4 linked regions of the Homo sapiens genome follow. The protein of the gene in region 3 interacts with the protein of the main gene of each other region in a biochemical or structural test. Each region holds a gene or a part of one and is shown on either strand. Other genes may lie near its edges.

Region 1 (5,300 bases), on a different chromosome or scaffold from region 3:
TCTGCCTTTGGGGCTCCAGGATGCCAGCTTACTTCCCTTTCTTCACTCTGCCTCTCAGGCCCCACATCTTAGCTGAGGCCGACTCTGGTAGCCAAAGTACCAGAGCAGGGCTGAGTCATTTTGTAGGAGGGAGCACCAAAGACTGAGTGGAAAAGTCAGGAAAGTTGGCCCACGTTACCCAGGCAACTGTGAACCTCTCAACCAACTTCCTCATCCTCTTTGACTTCTCTTAGGTTTTCATTTTGGCCTTCAGGCTGCTAGCTTAACGATTATCAGGTCTGAGGAAGCCTTAGCTTTTGTTCCATTGTTGGTGTTATGGCCACCACTGGGGGAAAGCAGAACCAAACTCATTGTGGTGGTGTTTGCGGGGCTAGTGTTTGAGGCCAAGTGGCCATTGCCTGTTTTTTTTCCAAAGGGTTCAATGTGGAGACAGTGGAGTATAAGAACATCAGCTTTACAGTGTGGGATGTGGGTGGCCAGGACAAGATTCGACCCCTCTGGAGACACTACTTCCAGAACACCCAAGGTATGCTCAGGCCTAGCGTGGGTTGGTTGGGTATGAGCAGAGAGTGTGGCTGTCTTTGTTAATGGGTGGCCAACTGTTACCCTGCTGCAGCTCCTGGGGGCAGAAGAAAGGGAGGAAAGGGAGCAAATATTTGGAGGGTGTCAGGCAGGTGTGGTCTTTTGGTTGGGGGGAGGGGGTTACCTGTCATCTTAGTGCAGCCCATGCTCTGCCTTCCTAGGGTTGATATTTGTGGTCGACAGCAATGATCGGGAGCGAGTAAATGAGGCCCGGGAAGAGCTGATGAGAATGCTGGCGGAGGACGAGCTCCGGGATGCTGTACTCCTTGTCTTTGCAAACAAACAGGTGAGACTTCTTCCCACCCCTGAATTTGGGAGACAGCAAACTGGCTGTGGAAATTGTTGGCTCTTGGGCCTATTATATGGTTAACCCTTTTAGTATGCTCTCAATGTTAGAAGCGTGGGAAACTGAGCACTTGGCTTCTTTATGCCCCTCTTCTTGTGCCCCACCCCAAGCTTTATTTAGCAACATTTCAGTCCTCAGGAATTGTCTCAAATCTTTCTTTCATCTTGCCTGTTATCTACTTTAGGAGAATTGGCCTCACTCCTGCTGTCAGACAGACCTGATTCTTTGGTCAGTCTGAATCACGTCTCTTGCTTCCCCACCATCCTCGTATTTGGTTTCCAATTCTTCAGTACAGTGACCTCTAGTGCTTTGGATCTTGAGTTCTAGGTGACTAAATCCAAAGTAGCTCCTTAGGATCTTGTTCTGGGTTTCCTAAAATAAAGGAGGAGGGGAAGGTGCTGGTACACATTTCTTTGGTAGATGGGTGTTCTAGAAGCCTTTAAAAAATCCTGAGGCTTCTTTTTATGTGTCTCCCACGTGCTCCAGGATCTGCCTAATGCTATGAACGCTGCTGAGATCACAGACAAGCTGGGCCTGCATTCCCTTCGTCACCGTAACTGGTACATTCAGGCCACCTGTGCCACCAGCGGGGACGGGCTGTACGAAGGCCTGGACTGGCTGGCCAATCAGCTCAAAAACAAGAAGTGAAAGCCAGACAGCCCTAACAAAGCACCCCACCCACCCCTGACATACCTACTGTCACCCTGCCCCAGTCCTACCCCTTCCTCTCCATGCAAGTGTGGCCAGGGCCCTGGGTATCATGTCCACATGCCCAGCAAGAGCCTTGCCTCCCCTGCCTCCCCTCCTTTTTCCTGTCCACCTATATGACCAATCCCTAATTGCTGTCCTGATGATGAGTCATTCCAATTTACTGGATTTAAAACAAAAAGTTGTTACGGTTTCATGGGGTGGCCCCTCTCTCTCTCACCCTCTGGGTTTCGGGAGGTCGAGTGGGGTATTCTCTTTGTTTGGCAGTGGTTGCTGTCCTCTTGGCATCTGAGTCCTTTCCCTGTCCCCACAAGCCCTTCTACTCCCTGTTTGCCTTTCCTTTGCCACCCTCTCCCTGTTTTACATGGAAATTGCACGGGCCTCTCTGTGTTTGCGTGCATGTGTGCGCCTGTATATACATGTATAGAGAGATATATTTGTGGGGGCCGGGGGGAGCGGGGAGGGGGTGGAGTGAAGCTCAGGGCTTGCAGCCAGGACACTGCCCACTGGAGCCTGTCATCTGCCCCTTCCGTGTTGGTGAGATTAAGGGAAGAAGGTGGGAGGGCATTAGTCAAGCCGGACTGCCCCAGTCTTTGACTGGTTACCCTCCTCTCTGCAGGTAGGTTTTTCTGGATGATAGGACAGATGATGGATTCTTCACCACCATTTTCCTTGTACTCTTCTCTCCACCCTTCTTAGGGCTGGAGGATGGCATTTATCTCTAGATGACTGTTCCCAAGGAGATGCCACTCTGCTCTGCCTTACTGTTGGGAAGGAGAGAGGAACCCACTCACTCTTATCAGCTTAGAGTGTTCAACTGATCCTTCCCCACCATCTTCAGATCTGTTCCTCTGGAGCTTGACTGGGGGGTGGGGATGGCAAGTCCATGGTGTGTGTTAGGGACCCAGGGCATTGGGGGAAGGGAGGCGAAGGCCTGAGGTTTTCCATCTTCATTCTCTTTTGTTATTAGGAGAAGGTGAGGCATGGGCCAATCCCATTCCTGCCTTCCAGTGCCCCACCACCCTTCTGATCTTAGGGGTTGGATGGGTCATCTGTCCTTGGTCAGAATTTTCTCACCCTAGTACTCCTACTGGCCTGACCAGGGCTGACTGGGTATTCTAATGAGGAGCTGGGAAGTGGGGTGACATAGCTGACCTTAGTATCAACCCCCCTCTTCTCCAACTCTTGTTTTCTAGTCCAGGATATGCTAAAGGACGAAGATTTTCTATTGTTTCCAGGCCCTCAGACCATCCTTGCTGTCCCTTCACCCTCCATGCCCCTGCCATCCTCACTCACTTCTCATAAATGGATCTGGGGGTTAGAGTGGAGGAAATAAAATCCTGAAGTGGTTGTCAGTGCTTGTGGGATGCAGTGGTCTTCAGGATTCTCCCCGCATTATTATGTAGTTGTTCAGAAGCTGTTGCTACTGCGTCTCTCTGTCTGCAGGGGGCACTTGTTCCTGAGGTCCTCGCCTGGGTCCTGACTTCTGTAGTTTCTGTGAAGACGTGGCTGTCCTGTGGGCTCCTGTGTGTGCTGGCTGCGCCCTGAGCTCCGAGACAGCTGCCCATAACCTGCTAAGGTCAGGGCCCAGGGCCCCCCACAGCATGGCTGAGGGACCCCTTCCCAGTAGGGCTGTCCCAAGCCCCACTCCATGGGGCCAGGTTTCCTGGCCACTTTTGTTGATAGCAGATGGATCAATATTAGTAACCCCATCCAAGATTGAACTGTGAAAGAGAGGTTCCAGGGGTATCTCCCTCAGTGCCAGTTACTTAGTGATGTGTTACCCAGGATGCAGCAGGTGTGTGCAGGTATCTTGCTCTCTAGGCCTGTGTGTGTGTGTGAGTGTGTGTGTATATGGGTGTGGGTGTGTTTGTGTGTGGTGGTTGTGGGGGGGGTGTTGGAGGTTCTATTTCATTTAAAAATGTATTCATTTCCCTGGCCCCACAGATGCTTCCCTCCATACTTTTTATTTGCTCTGTTTCCTCAGATTTATTTTGTCTTGCCCCATTGCCTCTCCTTCCTTGAACTCTTTCCTTTTCAATCTCAACTCATTCACTGCTGTTGCTCATTTGCCCTTTTCCATGTATTTTTTCCTACTTAGGATTTTCCACTCTATCTTTGTGGTTCATGAGGACTTTGCCTCTTCTCCTGCCTCATTCCCTGACTTTCTCTAGTTAGATGTCAGTCCTAAATAGGTTTTCCTCACTTCAGGCCTCACCCCTCACCTTGTTTTTTTGGGGGCTCCAGGGACCAATCTGGGGCTGGAAATGTTAGGAGGTTGCCTTGGTGCTGCCCCAGATCTGTCCAGCAGGGGGCAGTAAGTGATCTTGGTAGTATCCCTGGCTGCTAAGCCCTTGGCAGGGGTGGTCCTTTCTACATTCCCATTCACTTAACAGCTCTTTTGGGATTGGGTGTTTCATTCCATTTCTGCCCACTCCCTCTCCTCTCCTCTCTGGTAGGTTTAATTTTATGCTTTCCCTGATTCCAGCTTTCTGCTTCCTGAGGACTCCCGCTCCCCCCACCCCAAAGTTTGTCTGTGGTGTTATAGTGGTAACTGCAGTTCCTCCTCTGGAATGTAGACTGTATATGTTTAATAACTCACCTTCTCTATCCTTGCTCAAAATGTGGGATAACGCGATGACTGTGACCCTGGTTGGAAATTAAACTTGTTTTATGCAGCTTTGGAGCCGACCTTCATCTTTGCTGTGCAGCAGCCGTGGGACAGTAGTTTCATGGTGAGGGGAGTCCTGTTTCTGGTCCCTCTCTCCATAGTGCTCCTTCTTTCAGCAAAGGGGTAAAAGGCACACTTGATTGATAGAGAGTAAGGTTATGGAGGAACTTAGTGCCACTCCACACTGGTTATTTCTTCCCATCATACCCCGCGGCGGGGGAGCCCAAATGAATTGGGCATCAGAGTGTGAGGGCTTCGTGACTTTCCTCCTCTAGTTCTAAAGGGTTTAAACCTGAAATCAGCTGTATTTCTCACCTGTTGGTAGACTGTATGGACTTCACTGGCTGAAGGGCCCTGAACTTGGAGGGCCCCATGTGCCTCTACTCTCAGATCTCCTCAGCCTTGCACATGAGGTGCTTCTAGTTTGAACAGAGACCCCCTCACTAGTCTAGTTCTGGACTTTGGCAGTGAATAAACATGAAGGATAAACGTCTGGGCAGTGTAATGACCTTAATCCTTCTTACAACTGATGGCCCTGCATCAGCTCTACTTCAGGCGTGTGGTTTTTCATTGTCAGGATGCCAAGCCTCATCCAGAGATCCCACAAATGTCTTGAGGAATAGACCTTTTCCATAAAGCCTCCATCCTCCCATCGCACTCCCACCACTATTCTGTTCCTCCCCTGCTACCAGTGTCTGGCTCCAGGCAAAGAAAGGGATGGTGCTACCTTTAGGGTGGGTGAGGTCTGGGTGAGCCAGGCAAGCCTTCCCCAATCTTAATATTTTCTTAAGCTTTGAGGACAGAGGTCTTCCCAGCCTGCTTTTGTGGGAAAGGGATAGGATTTAGGCATATAATAAGTTTGAGAGCCCCAAGTACCAGTGTGAAGCATATAATTTATATTCAGTTACTTCCCTGCTGCCTCCCCTGCCAATTTTCCTTTTCAGCACTTCTATTATTAATAGGCCATCACCCTCAAGGACCAGTGCTTCCACC
Region 2 (5,334 bases), on a different chromosome or scaffold from region 3:
GGTGCAAGCCACCACACTTGGCTAATTTTTGAACTTTTTGTAGAAAGGGAGTTTCACCACGTTGGCCAGGCTGCTCTCAAACTCCTGAGATCTAAGGGATCTGCCTGCCTCGGCCTCCCAAATTGCTGGGATTATAGGCATGAGCCACCACACCCAGCCTGAATTAATAGTTGTGATTAGTAGTAACACCACCACCAAATAAAAAATCAGTCATCACAAACCATGAGATTACTTTTTCTCCAAGTTCTCTACCCTCCAGTCACATTCCTTCCATCTCTCCCCAGTTTCCAACTCCTCCTCCATTACTCCTCCCTCTCCCTTCTCATCTTCTCTCCTGGCACTCTTCCTGTATATTTTCTACCCCAGCTCGTCCTCCTTCCAAGACTCCTCTCCCATCAGTCCTCTCTCCCCACCCCTTCCATCCTTCCTCTTTTCAGGCAGTCCTCCTTCCAGATGAACTCCATGTTGGTACAACAGAGTAATGATTCGAGAGTGCCGTGTGCTGAGATCAAGGCCATGGGGCCAGAGATGAGTCCGTTTTAATTGCTGGGGAAACAGGGAGGGGCCTTGGAAATAGCTCCCCCCACCCCACTCCCCACGTGTCCCATCCAGTTTGGGCAGGAAGCCACTTTCCCTAGAACAGTTCATTGCTGGGATCCTGTGAAGAACCGCTGTGGAGGGCAGCAGCTGGACGAGGGCACAGGACCTCAGAGAACACTGATGCGCTCCGCCAGCCCCTGCATGTCGTGGTCCTGTGGTGGACAGGCCCCACCGAGATCCCTGTCCGTGGGCAGCCCAGACCCAGGCAGCGGATGCTCTGCTGCAAACTGCTCCCAGCGCGCGTCGTCACTCTCATGCGTGATGTATCGCTCTCCCATCTTCCCCTCCAGCTCTCGGAGGTCCAGCCACGTCTGGTACTCCTGGGCCCGAGAGAACTGGGGTTAGCTTGGGGTCTGCATTGGAGCAGTGCCTGGATATCCTCTGGTTTGCCACTGAGAGCTGGGTACCAATGAAGGTGAAGCCATACCCTCTGCAACCCACCCAGCCAGTAGACATTTAGCTCCACCCCCTCTTCCTGCACCCAGCCAATGGGAGGCCTAGCCACATTCCAGACCCAAGGAAACCTACATCCTTCACAACCTGCCTAGCCAATAAGCGATCTACTCCCACCCCTTCCTCCAATCCAGCCAATGGGCCAGCCCTGCCCCCTGCATCACCTGTAACCAGGGGTGGCTGAGAGATTTGTCCACGCTGTAGCGTTTGCGCATCTTCACCTGCAGCAGGTTGTTGATGAGGTCAATGGCTGCACAGGAAAGAGAAACAGGTCAAGCCCTACAGGTCAAGGGTCACTCCTCCTCCAATAGGCACCCCCTAGCCTACCTGCCTGCCATCAACACCTTCCTTCTGCACCAGCTCAGGTGGCTCAGAAGCCTCACCTGTGCCAATCACTCACCCACCCATTTCCTCATTACATTACAAATTTGTCTCCTCCTGCCCATGCATGTTCACACCAGCTCCCTCTCTTCACCTGTTCTCTACTTCAATTTCCCCATTCCCCTATGTCACCTTTTTTTTTCTTTTTGTCATATACAGGTACATACAATTACACCTGTACTATTCTTTTTATTTTTACTTATTTATTTATTGAGACAGAGTCTCGCTCTGTCGCCCAGGCTGGAGTGCAATGGCACGATCTTGGCTCACTGCAACCTCCGCCTCCCGGGTTCATGTGATTCTCCTGCCTCAGCCTCCCAAGTAGCTAGGAATACAGGTGTGTGTCACCATGTCCTGCTAACTTTTTGTATTTTTAGTAGAGATGGGGTTTCACCATATTGGCCAGGCTGGTCTCTAACTCCTGACCTCAAGCAATCCGCCTGCCTTGGCCTCCCAAATTGTTGGGATTACAGGCATGAGCCACTGCGCCCGGCCTAAATGGATTTTCAACCTACAATACTTCCTTTTTTTTTTTTGAGACAGGGTCTCATTGTTACCCAAGCTGAAGTGCAGTGGCGTGATCAATGCTCACTGAAGCCTCCACCTCCCCAGCTTAATTGATTCTCCTGCCTTAGCCTCCTGAGCAGCCAGCTGGGACTACAAGCACCTGTCACTATGGCCGGCTAATTTTTGTATTTTTTGTAGAGATACATTGCCCAGGCTGGTCTTGAACTCCTGGGCTCAAGCAATCTGCCTACCTTGGCCTCCCAAGGTGCTGGGATTATGGGCTTCAGCCACTGCGCCTGACCAACTTATGATATTTTCAATTTACAATGGGCAATGGGTTTATCAGGTTTATCTAACCCCAGTGCAAATCAGGGAGCATCTATGTCATCAGGCTGGGCGCGGTGGCTCATGCCTGTAATCCCAACACTTTGGGAGGCCGAGGCGGGTGGATCACCCGAGGTCAGGAGTTCGAGACAAGCCTGGCCAACACGGAAACCCCGTCTCTACTAAAAATACAAAAAATTAGCTGGGCATGGTAGCGCATGCCTGTAGTCCCAGCTACTCAGGAGGCTGAGGCAGAATCGCTTGAACTCAGGAGGCAGAGGTTGCAGTGAGCCAAGATCGTGCCACTGCACTCCAGCCCGGGTGACAAAAGCGAAACTCCGTCTCAAAACAAAACAAAACAAAACAAAATGTCATCAGATGGTAGTTAGTCACCATTGCCTGCAGAAGGCTCAGAGATAGGCCTGTTCATTGTGAAAAAGAGGACTAGCGAATGTCAAGCTTCAAGACAAGCCAGCACTCATCCGAGGCTCTCTCCTTGATGGGAAGCCATGAAGGACAAGGCTTCACTGTATGAACCCATCCGAGGAGAGGCCTGGTGCACACAGGCACCCTGCTCCCGTCAACACCCACAGGATTCTGTGATCCTCACACAGGTGCAACCACACTTAAATTCACTTGTGCACACTCGATGCACTTTTACTGAGGGACTTCTGAGTGGGTCTCAAAAGACAATGCTGGCGGGGTGTGATGGCTTATGCCTGCAATCCCAGCACTTTGGGAGGCTGAAGCGGGCAAATAACTTGAGGTCAGGAGTTCAAGACCAGCCTGGCTAACATGGCGAAACCCTGTCTCTACTAAAAATATAAAACATGAGCCAGGCATGGTGCTGTGTGCCTGTAATCCCAGTTACTCGGGAGGCTGAGGCAGGAGAATCCCTTGAACCCAAGAGGTGGAGGTTGCAGTGAGCCGAGATCACGCCACTGCACTCCAGCGTGGGTGAAAGAGCGAGACCCCACCTCAAAAAAAAAAAAAAAGCCAGTGTTGAGCACCCCCAATATTACTCCAGGACTCAAGTCAATCCACATTCTCACTGCTTAGGGCCCATGCTCTTAGACCACCACCAAGACCTTGTCTTGTCCTGCACCGAGCAACCTCCGTGTCACCCTGCTCCACCTGCTCCATGAAGCCGCACCCTCCAGAGAGGACCCTTCCCCTTTCCACCCTTCGCGGACCACTCAATGAGCTACCCTGCACCTGACCCCTTCTGTCCAAGTCATCACAGTATTCCCAGAGCTGGAACAGTCAATGCCTGGCACATCGTGGGCACTCAACATGTTGAATCAATGGTTACAAATACATGAATGTACTTGTTGAATAAATGGTTATAAATAAATGAATGAATGATCCCCCCCCTTCCCATACTCCATCTGTCTTCCTGAGCTCCCTGGCTCCAACACAGGTCCCTTGTTCTCCTGGCTTCTGACACACCCCAGTATCTTAGCCCTGCCTCTGGCCCTCTAAACATGCCATCCCACACCCAGCCTCAAAGCTCCAGGCCTTAGGACTTAACTTTTCCAAGCAGGGAAAGTTACAGACCCATTCCCAAGTAGGTTCAAGTCACCAGGCCCGGTGCCACTTCATCAGGCCCAGCCACAACACCAAAGCCCCAGAATGCAGAGTGCAATGTCTGCCTCAGTCCTGGCTCCCTTCTCCTCCCCACTCCCATCCACTCCCAGCTTCCAGGACTCAGGGTCAGCCCTGTTCCTGGACCTCTTCGGAAACCCTCCACGGCCACGTCCCTAGACTGGCTCCCTTGGTCACTGAACCGACCCCAGGCTTCAGGCCCATCTTCACCCAAGTCACGGCCCCAGTACACAGCAAAGTAGCCATGCCCTTGTTTCTCAACCCTACCCACCGGTGCCTCCTTTTTGCAAGGCTGACCCTTTTGGGGTCGTAAACCCAAAGGCTCCAGGTCCCAGCCAATGCCTTGGGAGGCTCAGCCCCTTCTCCTGGTCACCGCAGCCCTTTGGTACCCTCAAGTCCAGTCCCTTTCCTGGTCCCACCCTAGACAAGCCAAGTCTCACTCAGCCCCCCTAAGGTTCCAAGTGTCCTCAGCGCTTCTGGGGCACTTGGTTTCCAGCCCAAGTAACCTAGTCTAGGCCTGAGTCCCAGCCCATCTTTTACAGGACGGCTCCTCCTGTAGCCACATCCCTCCAGTAGGCCCGCCCCAGCACTGGGCTCCACCCCCAAGGTGCCAGGCTGTTTCCGGGTCCACCCCCCTCTCATGGCTCCGCCCACTTCTCCAGCCCCACCCCACAACCCACCCGCCCATGGGGTAGGCGGGCCCCAGGCACCTCCAGCTGAGATGTGGCTCCAGGGGCTGGCCGGGTACATGAAGGCGGCGTTCTGGATCTGGTCATTGATGTCCTCATCCTCGTTGAAAGGGAAGGTGCCGCTGAGGCTGACGTACATGATCACGCCCACTGACCACATGTCCAGCGAGCGGTTGTAGCCCTGGTTGAGCAGCACCTCGGGTGCCAGGTAGGCCGGCGTGCCCACCACTGAGCGGCGGAACGACTTCTCGCCGATGATGCGAGCAAAGCCAAAGTCACACAGCTTCACCTGCAGAGGGCAAGGGATGGAGGCTCCACCAGGTGATGGAGCCGCACCCACCCCAGCATCCCCACCACACCACCCTCCATGGTATTCCAGAGAAAGCTGGATGCTGGTTTGAATCCAGGCTCCTTGGCTCACTAGCTGAGCAACCCTGGGCAGGTGACTTCCCCCCTCTGTGCCTCAGTTTCCCCATCTATAGGAAGAAGAGCAGAAGAGCACCTATCTCAGAGGACTGCCATGATGGTTAGTGAATTAAACCATCCAAAGCCCACAGGACAATATTTGGCATTCAGTTGGTGCACAATAAATGCTAGCTGCTGCTATACCTCTGCCACCTCCAATGGGTCGCTGTTTCCTCTTTTGAATAATGCAGATTTTTTTTAATAGCCTCAAAATATACATGATTGGGGCGTGGTGGCTCATGCCTGCAATCTCAGCACTTTGGGAGGCCAAGGAAGATGGATCATTTGAGGTCAGGAGTTCGAGACCAGC
Region 3 (7,035 bases):
CAAAATGCATCTTCCACTTTTAGTGTACTCGACAGATTATCTCTGAGAAGCTAGGCCGTGGCTCAAGAACTGTGGACCTTGAACTTGAAGCTCAGATTGATATATTAAGGGATAACAAGAAAAAATATGAAAATATTTTAAAACTGGCTCAAACATTGTCGACCCAGCTTTTCCAGATGGTACATACCCAAAGGCAACTTGGAGATGCATTTGCTGACCTGAGTTTGAAGTCACTAGAACTTCATGTAAGATTATTCTAAATAACTATTAGGGATGGGAGAAAATGATAATAGAAGTATTCTAAGAGGTAATTTGTTATTGTGATTTGCTGAACTCTTAATGAAGATGGAATTCTGAGATTCTCTTTTAAGATATTTCATATCACTTTAAGAAGGCCCTCTTAAAGTGATATGACTTCTGTTAACTTTACTTTTTATGAATTATCATATGTATATAAATCTTTCATATTTTTCTTCCTGTTTGTTAATATTTTATTTTGCCTTTTACTCCTTAATCAATATCAAGGGTTACTGTTGTAATATGTTCTGTTAACTTTTTCTAAAAGTTGTAAAAATGTTGTTTTCTGTATTATTCTATTTCCAGTAACATTTATGTAGACTTCAGTGAAGTGTGTAACTTAGCTTGTGGAAATTTGGTGCCAAAAATCTTAAGCTGTCCTGCTTTTCATTTTAGTTTTTACATGCATTGATTGGTAATCTTTTTATGTGGTCCTTTATCTGCCAATATTTGCAACAAATCAAGGTCTATAATATTTTGAAGACTGAGTACAGAGTGGAGTTACATGGACATCTCTTAAATGGAAAATGGTTTTAGCATAATAAGGATAATTTTACTTTCCTGCTATTTTCTGAATTATTGAATACTTTGTCACCTAAGAAACGTAATTACAGCTATTGCAATAGCATTAAATTTGTATCTTCTAATATTTTAGTTAATTTAATATTACATTATTTGTTTCAACTGAAATTGAAAAGTGTTTTGTAACAAACTGGAGAATTATCAAATTAAATGATACATCTTAGAATATGTGATCGGTTTTTTATTTGGTTAGGTGCATCCTGATTAATCTGTTAATTAGTAAAACTTGCACTGGAAAGCTTTCACTGCTGAATATACAGAGCTAGAGTTAGTTCTTGCCATATCTGAAGGAGTCATGTGTAATGTTTACTGCACCAAGATGCAGTTTATTCAAAAAGAATGAACTAAAGCTGGTGTTGAGTGATCCTTCCTCAGTTGTGTGCCTAAATAGAGCTGAGCTTGGGAGTCAGCTAGTCACCAAGTTTACAAAGAAATATGTATTGTTAATATTTATACTTTGAGGAGAATCAGTCAAAACACAAAAAAAATGCACTTTGTTTTATGTCTGAAAGTTTTAACCAATTATTACCTAATTTGGCTGTGAAAGTTATAGTTTCTCTGATTAATAATCTGCTCTATTTTTCTTTCCAACAGCTGTGCTTATAGTATAATAGAAACAAAATGTAGAAATGAAAATATTGTTTCTACTACAAAGTAACTTAAAAAAATTATTTAGCTTTTAGGTATGTATCTGAGCTGATGACAATTTTGGTTTATTAGACTTTTTCAGTAATTATATGGCTAGCTGTGATTTCGATTCTTAAAGACGGAAAGGAAAAGTAAAACTGCTACAGCTAGATCTCTATCTAAATCACATATTTTCCCATTAGTGACGTGCTTGAGATTTTTAAGTCACTTTTACTGATTTATTACTGAATAAATTAAGGTGACTTCTTTGTTTTAGGAAGAATTTGGCTATAATGCCGATACCCAGAAACTGCTGGCTAAAAATGGAGAGACTCTTCTTGGGGCCATTAATTTTTTCATTGCTAGTGTGAACACTTTGGTGAATAAAACCATTGAAGATACATTAATGACTGTGAAACAGTATGAAAGTGCCAGGTAAGGTATACATTTTCACTGTGTTGTCTGTTTTACAGATGGCATATAATTCAGTTAATTTTTTGGTTACAAACAACAGAAACCAACTCTGGCCAATATGGGCAGGAAAAAAATGTACTGGAAAGTTATAGGATGCCTCTACAGACCTGGCAGAAAGGGAGAGAACAAGATTCTGGAAACAACCAAGAACCAAAGCCAAGTTAAGCCTCAGAAGAATCTAATTAGAACCCCTATGCTGGGTGCCTCTAGTACTTGATGCTGCCACAGCTACCATAAATAATTTCCTAAATACCCATGAATACTTGCTTCATTGCCTTGAGATTATCTAATTGAGCCTTGGTCATGTGCCCAAACCCTGCCTTCTAGTGAGTAGGGAAATGGAGGATCTCCCAGCTCTGGCTTCTTTAGAAGAGGACAGGGCCCTATGTTCTACCAGGTAGGTATTACATGGTCCTCTATACTCTCGCCTAAATTTACCTTTCATCCTTATTACCACTGCTTCCACAATAGCCAGACCCATACTTTCAGTTTCTATTGAATAAATAAGCTCATTTTGCCTCCATGATTTTTGTTTGTTAGGATATCAGTCATCTTCCATTTATCCAGATTATAACAAGCCTTCAAACCCTTTCAAATTTTACCTTTTATATAAATTAAATATTTGACTTGTATTTTGATAACTGTTCATAATGCAGTGTTTTTATACATCCTATTTTAATGGGTTTTTGTATATCCATATTCATATATATATGTATATATACAGTTTCCCTGTCTCATAACTATCCTGTTAAATGGTGAACAAAATATATATTAATAAATATATTAATAAATATTTTGAAGGGTCTAAAATATGGCAGACCTATAATAGCCTTTTTCACCTTTTGATTCCAGGCCCAATTTTTTCCCCATATGCCCTACCCCTTTTATTTAAGTATCATTCTAGTCCCTTTTGAGGTTTTTTTCTTTTGAGCACTCAAAATTCTTATTTTCCATTATACTTTTTATGCATAGTTGAAGATAAACTTTACCTTTTAGAAGGATAACTTTACTCTTTGGCCTCTTATCCTAGTTTAATGGTATGAGAAATACCTGTAAAAAACTCCAAACTCATCTAGTATTTTTGCAATTGAGTGCTTATTAAATATATATTTCCTTACACTTCAATTAAGTAAAAGCCCAAATCATTTTGAAAAGTTAATTTTTGATGTTTTCACAGGAAGAGATGCTTCTGTCCCATACCATGTTTATTTTGTCATTTTCCATTTAGTATTAAAGTATGAGATTCTTATTGACTTGAAAATGAAGGTCAAACAGCTGTGGTTGTATGGAGGGGTAAGGGTGAGGATAGCTGTTAGTAAGATAGCCTTCCGTGGAAATCTCTTCAATAACATTCTCAGTAATTGGTGTTTCAGTCTCAGTGTAAATCCTTTCATGGAAATTATATTTTTCAAAGGGTTCATTATGTATATGAATTTTAAAATTCATTTATATAAGTTTTACTTGATCCTTTTCTAAATTTTTCTGTTCCTTGTTCATAATGTCCTAATTTGTTCATAATGGTACTGTTTCTTTTATCTCTAATCATTTTAAATATTCATATTTTCTAGTCCTTCTGATTGTTTTAACATGTATGGGTTTTAAAGATGGATATTGTTTTCTTCCAAAAATACCCCCACCACCTCCTAGTTGAGAACTTTGTGAATCTAGTTTCTCTACTTTGCAATTGTCTACCTATCCTGAAATATATTTTCGTTAATAATAATCTCTTTCCCTTCAGCTTTTATTTCTAAACAGTTTATAATTAATTTGTAGAGGAGAAAACACTCTAGAGGTTAAATGGTTTGCTCACTTGTAGTCAATTTCAAAGGCAAAATAAGAACCCATTGGTTCTCTATGGTTCACATTTTATCAGTAGGCCTTATACCTGAGTATTAGTGCCCTAAGTATAATGTGGTATAAGATCTCAGATTATAAAATACAGTATATAGGTTCATTTGGAACTTTTGAACAAAATTATAAATCAAGTTACATGTACTTGGTGGCTGGTTTCTTAAGGGAAACCCTTACACAGCCTCTGTGTGTACTTTAAAAAACAACAACAGTAATGTTGTTTTTGTTTTATGTCATCCCGTAATTTATCCTTTTTTATTCAAATTACAATGTATGATCTTATTCATTAAGCTTAGCTTGGGGTTTGACTTTTCTGTTGTTTATGAAATAGCTGTGGAATTGGCTAGTTGTTAACACTAAAACCTTGCCTACTGATGGATAATAGTCAAAAAGAATCCAAGGTTAAAAGTTTTTCAGTAGCTGAATTTCCTTCTCTGTCAAAGCCAGAATTTACTGACTTTTAGGGCAAGGGTCATCTATTTGATCAGTGCAAAAAGTGGTAATTTAGGCAAATGCCCGAGTGGCCTTTTAATCCTCCCTATTATGCATTGTGTACAAGTATTTCCTAGCCCTCTGGTGCTTCATGTATAGAAAATCTTGTAACAGCCCATTCAACACTTCTCCACAGCAGCACCAACAAGGGAGTCAATTGTGGTCGAGACTTTTCAGATGTGGACACCTGTTCTCTAGAAGTTTTACATAAGCCATAAAGTAACCGTCACTAACTTTGTTGATACGGACTCAGTTCAGACGGGCAACCTTGAAGTGAAGTTGCTTTTTGAAAACTTAGTGAGCTTCTCTTCTTGGTGGTAATGAGCACTGTTAGAGAAGCTATTATGGAAAGTTTTACTTTGGTACCACCTACAAACTCTGAATGTAAAATTAAGAAATATAAGGTCAGTATTATAACTTTGAATATGTTTGAGTTAATCACTGTTGTTTAGAAATGCGCTCCAAGGCTATTGAAGGATATTTGTCCTTAGATTAAATCACCATGTATTACTATTTATTTAGTTCTACTTTTTTCTCTTTTATTTCCTATTGTTTTTAGTGTGCTTGCTTCTAGATACCCCTCTTCTAATTTGGCCATAATAATAAGCATTCTAAAGGTATCAGTTATTACCAGGTATCCTGTGTGTTTTATCTATATGAAGTTTTTGTGGAGATTTTTGTTCACATTTATAGATTGAAAAACTGGAGCACAAAGAGATGAAATAACCAGCTCAAGAATAGAGCCAAAAGGCAGAGAGGTCATTCAGCTTGGCTCCTGAACCCATGGATTTAACTAACTAGTTATTATTGCCAAGTCAGTCTTGCCTCCTAAATCTTTTGTATTTGTCTCCTTAGCTCCAATGCCTTTGTCCTGATTCAGTGACTCATTTCTTATATGTCCATCGTTTTCTAATAGGTTTCCTTGCTCCTGATTTTTTAATCATTTATTCTATCCTCCATCTCTTACACTACCACCAGGGTCATCTTTCTATCCTGATACAATCATGTCATTTTTATGTCAGATCAACATTCTTCAGTGGCTTCCCATTACTTCTCCTACTGGATTAAATTTAAACACTTTAACATGGCCTGTAGGGCTGCTTACTTTCAATCCTGCCTGCCTGTCTAATGTTAATTCCTTCCATTGTCATGTTCCAGCTTCAGATTCTGACATACCGAATTCCCAAATGTGTCATTGTATCTTACAAATCTATGCCTTTGTCCATGCTATTCTCTTCAGAATCAGAGTATCCTACTGATTTCTGTATCCCAATTCACCTAGCCAGCTTTTACCATCCTTCAAATTTTAATTATAGTATTTTAATTCTGTCTGAGATACCTTTTCAGATATCTAATTAAATAATTATTCCTCTTGATTTCCATTATACCTTACCCTCATTTATGGTAGTTCTTATTATCTCATTTTGTTGTAATTGTTTACAAGGTTCTCTTCCTCTAGAATGCGAGCTTCTTGAGGATAAACATATCTGTTCATCTTTATAGCTCTACTTTCTAACACAGTGCCTGGAACGTGGAAAGTGCTCACTTGAGAATTGTTGAATGAATCAGTGTATCAGTGAATGAATGAATGGTTCTCTTTTGACCCTGAAAGAGGCCAATTAAATTAAATCTTAACTCATACTGCTAAATTCAGTATGAGTTAAGAATAAATTAGGATCAGTGTGAAGGACTGATGTATTCTTTCTCAAGTCATATATACAATATAGATTATGTTATTTAAAGTATTGTTAATTCCCAGAATAGGAGATGTGAATTATACACCTAATATCTCCAAATAAAGAGCTTTAGTTTTAGGGTATAAGCTTTGTGATTCTGATCTTGACTAAATTAGAGGTCACTTTGCTTCTTCTTTGCTGAGTACCGAATAGTTGAAGCTGCTGGATAAATCACTGTTTAATAAGCAAGATAGTACTATACTTAGACAGGCACTGTGATAGAGCTATTATGAGGAGTTATGGGATCTTGGAGTGATGACAGTGGTGGGGTAACTATTTGAGTTGATGGGGGGAGAATATCAGAGTGAGGCATCTTACAGAACACAGGATGGTAAGTGCTCTACAATAGATACTGTTGTTACATTCTGAATACTGATGTTACAGAAATTCATCTAGAGTTGTGTTGTCAAGTATAGTAGCCACACATGTCTGGTGAGCACTTGAAATGTGGCTAGTCTGAATTGAGATGGGATAGAAGTGTAAAATACACAGTGGATTTCAAAGACTCACTACCCACTCTCCAAATGTAAAGTACCTATGAATAATTCTGTTACATTGATTACATGCCACAATGATTAATATTTTAGATATATTGGGTAAAATGAAATATATTGATAACAGGTGAAATTAATTATTATTTCATTGTAACTACTAGAAAATTTTAAATTACATGTGTTACTCACATTACATTTTTGTTGTGCATTGCTAACCCAGACTTTTTTCAGAACCATTTACACTTCCGTTAGTTTTAGTATGCCATTCTAGAGTCTGCTGTCCTTACCTGCTTTGCCTAATCAGTACTAAGCAATTCACTTGGGGTATTTATTCTACCCTTGATCTTGTTTTGACATTTATTTTTTTTAACTGGTTTTTAGATTTTGGAAATTTTACTTGTCAGTTAATACTGTGCTTTGAGAGAAATAGTTAATGAGATTAACCAGCAGCTTTGTTCTTATTTAAATAGCTCTTTGTTTTT
Region 4 (7,116 bases), on a different chromosome or scaffold from region 3:
AGCAGGAGCAGAGGCCTGTGGCTATGGGGGAGGAAAAGTGGGAGGAAAGGGCACTGCCTGAGGAGTCCGGGAGTCTGGTCATCCCGGGGATGCACGCAGGAGCTTCCGGGCATCAGGGGCCTGCCCCTGGCTGGTTAGCGCTTTGACAGCTCGTGGGACAGCCAGTCCAGACCATCGTACAGACCTGTGCCTTGGGTGGCACAGGTGGCCTGGACATACCACTGTGGGGAAAAGGAAAGAAAGAGGTCAGCAACCAGGAACAAAAGGAATGCCTTTATATCTCTGTCCCAGCCTGCAGCTTCCCTCAAGAGGCAGGATTCAGCACCAGGTGGGCAGGACCCCTACCGTGCGGCTGCGTAAGTGCTGTAGCCCCAGCTTGTCAGTCAGCTCGCTCACGGGCATGGCGTTGGGCATGTCCTGCTTGTTGGCAAATACCAGCAGCACTGCATCCCGCAGCTCGTCCTCCTGCAGCTGAGAGAGGAGAAGAGAAGGTGGGACCCAGGCTGCGTCTCCTCTACTGTGTTGGGGAATTCCCTTTCTACCTCCTAGCATCTTGATTGGAAAAAAAAAGTATTGTGCAGTCTGCCGTTGAAGACAAGACATAGTTGTAAATGAGCTTGAGGTGACCTGAGCCCATAAGTCCAGAAAAGAAAGACCTTTTCCTAATTTGAGTACTTGCCTAGGCAAAATGACAACATTTCCAAATGGAAAAGGCAGGAATGTAAAATGTTTCTCTTTGCCACATATAAGTCCCATCTCTCCCACAACTTCTCAGACTCAGATGTAAAGACATGAGAATGCGGCCGGGCGCAGTGGCTCACTCCTGTAATCCCAGCACTTTGGGAGACCAAGACGGGTGGATCACCTGAGGTTGGGGGTTCAAGACCAGCCTGGCCAACATGGTGAAACCCCGTCTCTACTAAAAATACAAAAATTAACTGGGCATGGCAGCGGGCGCCTGTAATCCCAGCTACTTGGGAGGCTGAGGCAGGAGAATTGCTTGAACCCGGGAGACGGAGGTTGCAGTGAGCCGAGATTGCACCATTGCACTCCAGCCTGGGCAACAACAGCAAAACTCCCATTTCAAAAAAAAAAAAAGACAAGACAATGCACAGAAAAAGTGAAAAAGTCACTCCCATCCAAAACAGGGTGAGATACACAATGTGTCTGTCCACAAAGAAAAACTTATATTCCTGGTCTTCAATGCCTGTTGGGGGCTCCCTGACTTCTATACCACTACAGAGATCACTCTGTCCCCAAGCTGAGGGCTCAGTTCCCAGGGCTCTGGGTACTCACCATCTTCTGGAGTTCATCAGCAGATTCTTGGACCCGCTCCCGGTCATTACTGTCCACCACAAAGATGAGGCCCTGGGCAGGAAGGAAGGAAGAAAGGAGAAGCAATCACTTCTGCCTGGGACATACCGTAGTGTGGCCCTTTCTGTTTTCTTCCCATTTGTAATTGTGTCAATCCTTCTCATCTAGTAAACTCTACAGAAGTTTACAGAACTCTATAGAAGCTCTACAGGAGTCATGGCACAAACTAGAGACCCCACTGCAAAGAGGAAGTAGTTTATCCAAAGATGTGCAAGGAAATAAAGACATGTTATGAGGGCTAAATCAGGCAGCCTGGTCCCAGAATCCTGCTTCTAAAGAGAAGTCCAAGCTGGGGAAGACTAAGGTGAGTTCTGAAGAGTGAGTAGGGGATAGCCAAACAGAAGGGGTAGAAGTGGGGAAGGGTTTTTTCCTTGGCCTGGGGGCCCAGCCTAGGCCAACAATTCTGTTCTCCCAGCCCTAACACCTTTTCCCGTGGGGTTAGAAAGTCCCCTCCCAACACTCCACCTGAGTGTTCTGGAAGTAGTGCCGCCACAGAGGCCGAATCTTGTCCTGGCCTCCCACGTCCCAGACTGTGAAACAGATGTTCTTATATTCCACTGTTTCTACATTGAAGCCTGCAGATAATTGGAAAAAAAAGATGAGAAAACTCCTGAAAGAAAGGAACTCACTAAAACTACTTAGATTTCAGCAGGGACACAAAACCAGAAGGCAATGATCAAGGCCCAGGGGAACAGAACCCCAGAACTGGCGGTCAACAGGGCGGGGCTAGGTCACATCCACCCTGCCTCCGGTATCCACGTAGAGATACCCTGACCCACTTCTCAAATAGCTGTATCTGGTGTCAGGGTCAGCTCCAGAAAAGTGGCAGAACTGGGAGCAGACCCCGCGAGGGCCCGCCGCGGCGCTCCCGCTCCCTGCTTCGTCCCCGGGCTCACCTATGGTTGGGATGGTGGTGACAATCTCCCCCAACTTCAGTTTGTACAGGATTGTGGTCTTGCCAGCCGCATCCAAGCCAACTGCAACGGAAAGGGGCACAGGGATGGAGATGGGAGCGAGGGAGCCCCCTAGAGACCAGGGAAAGGGAGAGGCCACAACAGCTGATGGTGACTGGGGCGGAGAGCGGGAGCGCCTCCAGGTGCGCGTCGTTATCTACCTTTGAGGCCTGGAGGGCAGTCGGGTGGCGTGAGCCAACTCCAAAGAGGGCGCGGAGCGGGAGAGGACTGGGAGGCAAGGGGCACGGGAGGTAGGCCGCGCTCGTTTTAAAAGTCGTCTCCAAGGGCGGAATCCTCCCTTCTTACCAGCCGGGCTGGGGCGGAGGGAGCTTCACCCCACCCAGGCCCGCAGCTCCGGGTGTCAGGCCCCGGGGTCGGCGATGCAGACCGGGACCCGCCCGAGAGCAGAGGCCCCGGGGCGTTATGAGGTGGGTGACTCGGGGCCAGAGACCCAGGTGAGCGGGGCTGGAGGGACGCGGGGGCGGAAGGGCTGCGCCGGGGCCGGCGCCCCGGTCCGGGCCGCGCGCTCGATCTGCCTCACCCATGAGAATCCGCATCTGCTTCTTCCCGAAGATCCGCGAAAAGAGCGCGGACACGGTGAGGCCCATGGCGGGGCCCGGGGAGGGGCGCGGGCACCGACGCGGGGTGCGGGCTGGAACTGGCCGGCCGCGGGGGGATGGGGCGCAGCAGCAGCAGGAGGAGGCTCCGCCGCCGCCTCCGCGCGTCGCTGCCCTCCCGACGTCACCGCGGGCCCGCCCCCGTCCGGGCCCCGCCCCCGGCTCTCGGCCCCGCCTCCCCCGGCTCTGGCTCCTAGGGGAGCTGAAGCTCCGCGAGTTGCCGCTGCTGGCCTGGGTCCCGTGCGGCCCTTACTTGGGAACGGGTCTAGGTCTCTAACGCGCCTGCCAGGCCTGTGGCCGCCGAACCGGCAGCCCGAGCGCGGCTGAGGAAAGGATTCATCGCTCCGCAGCGGCCCCTGCCCCCATTTTCAGTGGCCGGCCGCTGGGCTTTGGTTTGTTGCGTCCAGGCCCCTAGGGGCTCCGGTTTTAGCCCTTGGGAACCAGTAGCACTGAACGTGTGCACCACTCTCCTTTGGGGAGTGGAAGCTGCGATTAGGGGTCTTGGTCCTCCCTTTACTGCCTCATCTTCCACCGAGGGACTTGCGCGTAGTAGGTGGTCGTGTGAAGAGTGCGCGGGAGGTAGGGGAAGGTGCCCGAGTGCTAGCTAGCTTCCATGGTTCCTCAAAACGCCTACTTCCTAATTCCCAATCCGCAGAACCAGTGTAAGATTCCCGGCCTTGGGCGGCGGGGTCACAGACCCACTCCTGGGCTGTTGGAGAAGTCCACCTTCGTTTGGATCGCCCTGCGGGCCCCGCCTCTCAGTCCAGGCGCTGGCCGCTTTGCCGAAGTTCCTCACTTTGCCACAGACTTGTGGACCTGGCTTATTCTTGCACATCCATTCAGGATTTTGTGAAGATCTTGACTCCGTAGACCCAAAGAGCTTCACATGTCATTTCCCTGCCTCATTTTAACATCTGAGAGGAGAATAGCAAAATAGGAATGAAATTCTTCTGCGGTGGAGACTGGCTCATTGCCAGGCATTATTAGGCCTAACAAATGCTTGTTCAGTTGAACTGGACTGATAGATTCTCAATGGAGCGAGGGTAGGTGTTATGTCTACTCTGGATTCCCAGTGGGCTTCTAGGATCAATTGTTTATGGACTCGAGGTAAACTGAGCTGGGAATAAAAAAACCTTCACTCATTCATTTGCTTTTTCAGCAGATATTTACTGAGCACCCACCACTTGCCAGCACGTGATTTCAGGCTTTAGTTCAAATCTTAATTCTGCCATTTCTTGAGGATTTGGCTTCAGCACTCCTCATAACTCTTCCGTTATTTCATCATCTATAAAATGAGACTTGTTCTAACTTAAGGGGTTATGGTGAATCTTAAAATGATTTGATAATGTGACTGAATGTTATGTATAATACAGCTTGATGTTATTTGGGCCACTGAGAAACGGGGTCTGAACAGACCTCCAGGGCCTGCCCCATCCTGATCTGCAAAGTCTGTAACAAGGACAGACTTTGGGAAACAGGTATGAGTGAGTGAATGACTTTCCTTTTCTCTTCAGTCATAGACTTGCATCCCTAAGAAGGCTTTTACGAGGCTGAAGAGTACATTTTAGAGAGTTCCAATATAATAACAGAACTAGTGTTCACCAAGTTAGGTCAATTCTACATTTAGCTCTTTTATCAGCCTCTTTGCTTCCATCTCTGTTGTCACTACCTTCTGTTCCCCATGACTGAAAGTCTCCTCACAGGTTTCCTGCCCCTTGTTCCCTCCAACATGTCATACAAGTCTTGATGACATCCCACTTTTCAGATTAAAATCCATTAGGGCCTTACTATAACCCAAGATAAAATTTAAATGCCATAAGTTGGGTCCCTACCTATTGTGCCAGCCCCTCTGTTGTCACCTCCTTCACATACCCTAAGCTACTGAATGCTTTCTGGGTGAGTCAAACTCCGATACCCTACAGGTCTTTGCATTTTTTTCCACCTGCCTGGAATGCTAGTTTCCCTGATCTCTGGTTAGGTGGACAATCACGACTCATCCTTCAAATCCCAAAGTATTATTCCCAAGAGCCTTCCATGCCTCACCTAGACAGGCCTCTTTCCTCTTAACTTTCATACCACTTTGAATATACCCAGACATACTGGTGTGATAGCAGGACATATTTGTATGTCTGGTTCCTCACTAGATTGCGAGCTCCCTGAGGGCAAGGTCGTGTCTCTTAATGGTGTTACCATCTGGCACAGCACGTGATACGTTGAGAATCAGACTGATTAGAACTCCTAAACTTACTAGCTGTGTGACCTTGGGCATGTTACGTATAACCTTTCTGCCTCATGTTTTCATATCTGTAAAATAGTGCTAATGAGTATAGTGCTTACAAGAATTACTGTAAAGACTAAATAGCAAAACTCTTGTGAGCTCCTGGTATATAGCTGGCACTCAGGATAGACATGGCTATAGAGTGCCCTCCGTAAATATTTGTGGAATCAACTCAGCAGAACTAAGGAAGGGTACTATTAGGCTGTATGCCTACTAGGTACCAAGCACTGTGCTATAGAGGACTGCAGTTTTCGTGGTCTAAATGGGAGTCTTAATTGTTGCCTTTTAGGGACCATGGGTCCTGAGCTCCCAAATCGTTGGATGCGTCGTTCACCTGGGTGTTTGGTAAGAATGCAGTGCGACGTTGCTCTGTCGCTCGCTGAGCGTAGCCCGAGGTCAAGCTTGGGCGCTCTCACAAAACCGGTGCCACTCTGGTGTCTTCGACTTTGCTGGCTTCGCCTTTCCCAAGCCTGTTTTTTGCCGCTCGCGGCCCCACTGCGTTCTCAACAGGCCGCGCCCACCCACCGGCCGACTTGGCCCCGCCTACCTTGGGCCCACTGGGGGCGGAGCCTGCGGCGCCTCGCTGACGTCACTTCCAGCGGACACGGAAGCGCCGTTGTCGGCAGGCAGCTTTAGTTAGGATGTCGTGATGGGACCGAGCTCAGCGTAACCCTCTGGCCGACGTGGGCCGAGGGGGCCGGCCCGGGCTGCTGTGGCCCAGACGAGCGGAGAGTGCGGAGCGGCTTCTGGGCCAGCGCTAACGAGCCCTGGCAGTGCGCACCTCTGGTGCCAGTGTCGCCCCGCCTCCGGGGTAGAATCCGCCCCAGCCCTCCGGGCCTGGGACCGGGCGGCCGCTTTCGCCAGTCCGTCCGGCCGTTCCGCATTAGGTCCGGGATAACTAGGTGGAGTAGGTGTGCGGCCCGCCGCCGGACAGCCCGCTCGCTGTTTCTTTAAGCCCCCGCCTGCGTCTTCACGGCCCTCTCCCGTTCTGCTGGAAAGCTGACGTGGGGCAATCCGTTCAGACCCTCCATGGAGAAGTTTGGGATGAATTTCGGGGGCGGCCCGAGCAAGAAGGACTTGCTGGAGACTATAGAGACCCAGAAGAAGCAGCTTCTCCAGTACCAGGCACGGCTCAAGGATGTGGTCCGTGCCTATAAAAGCCTGCTGAAGGAGAAAGAGGCATTAGAGGCCAGCATCAAGGTGCTGTCGGTATCCCACGAGGCAGATGTGGGCCTCGCAGGTGTCCAGCTTCCAGGCCTCACCTTTCCTGACTCTGTGGATGACCGGTGCTCCACTCACAGCGAGGATAGCACTGGGACCGCCACTAGCTTGGATACTGCGGCCAGTCTCACCAGCACCAAGGGTGAGTTTGGGGTAGAAGATGACAGACCGGCCCGTGGACCACCACCTCCAAAGTCCGAAGAGGCCAGTTGGTCCGAGAGTGGCGTTAGCAGTAGCAGTGGGGATGGGCCATTTGCAGGTGGGGAGGTGGACAAAAGACTGCACCAGCTGAAGACTCAGTTGGCTACTTTGACCAGTTCTTTGGCTACAGTCACTCAGGAGAAGTCCCGCATGGAGGCTTCTTACTTGGCTGACAAGAAAAAGATGAAACAGGACTTAGAGGATGCCAGTAACAAGGCGGAGGAGGAGAGGGCCCGCCTGGAGGGAGAATTGAAGGGGCTGCAGGAGCAAATAGCAGAAACCAAAGCCCGGCTTATCACGCAGCAGCATGATCGGGCCCAAGAGCAGAGTGACCATGCCTTGATGCTGCGTGAGCTCCAGAAGCTGCTGCAGGAGGAGAGGACCCAGCGCCAGGACTTGGAGCTTAGGTTAGAAGAGACCCGAGAAGCCTTGGCAGGACGAGCATATGCAGCTGAACAGATGGAAGGATTTG

The links.
Region 1: the proteins of ARFIP1 (region 3) and ARF3 form a complex in vitro, tested with the Homo sapiens proteins (2 studies listed by BioGRID).
Region 2: of the proteins of ARFIP1 (region 3) and PRKD2, one has a biochemical effect on the other in vitro, tested with the Homo sapiens proteins (one study listed by IntAct).
Region 4: the proteins of ARFIP1 (region 3) and ARF5 form a complex in vitro, tested with the Homo sapiens proteins (one study listed by BioGRID).

Annotation. Positions count from the first base shown.
Region 1 is NC_000012.12:48,935,223-48,940,522, reverse strand, and holds the end of ARF3 (ADP-ribosylation factor 3), read left to right. Parts: intron 1-415; coding exon 416-526; intron 527-743; coding exon 744-868; intron 869-1,414; coding exon 1,415-1,576; 3' UTR 1,577-4,784; downstream 4,785-5,300. Other genes in the region: peptidyl-prolyl cis-trans isomerase FKBP11, read left to right, coding at 4,785-4,869.
Region 2 is NC_000019.10:46,673,816-46,679,149, forward strand, and holds the end of PRKD2 (serine/threonine-protein kinase D2), read right to left. Parts: intron 4,849-5,334; coding exon 4,581-4,848; intron 3,642-4,580; exon of another isoform or gene 3,325-3,641; intron 1,304-3,324; coding exon 1,218-1,303; intron 921-1,217; coding exon 708-920; 3' UTR 501-707; downstream 1-500.
Region 3 is NC_000004.12:152,880,940-152,887,974, forward strand, and holds part of ARFIP1 (arfaptin-1), read left to right. Parts: intron 1-23; coding exon 24-245; intron 246-1,783; coding exon 1,784-1,941; intron 1,942-7,035. UniProt on the Homo sapiens protein: Plays a role in controlling biogenesis of secretory granules at the trans-Golgi network. Mechanistically, binds ARF-GTP at the neck of a growing secretory granule precursor and forms a protective scaffold.
Region 4 is NC_000007.14:127,584,318-127,591,433, reverse strand, and holds the start of ARF5 (ADP-ribosylation factor 5), read right to left. Parts: upstream 3,024-7,116; 5' UTR 2,936-3,023; coding exon 2,869-2,935; intron 2,352-2,868; coding exon 2,271-2,351; intron 1,950-2,270; coding exon 1,840-1,949; intron 1,679-1,839; exon of another isoform or gene 1,588-1,678; intron 1,566-1,587; exon of another isoform or gene 1,483-1,565; intron 1,369-1,482; coding exon 1,297-1,368; intron 472-1,296; coding exon 346-471; intron 222-345; coding exon 135-221; 3' UTR 1-134. Other genes in the region: GCC1 (GRIP and coiled-coil domain-containing protein 1), read left to right, coding at 6,252-7,116.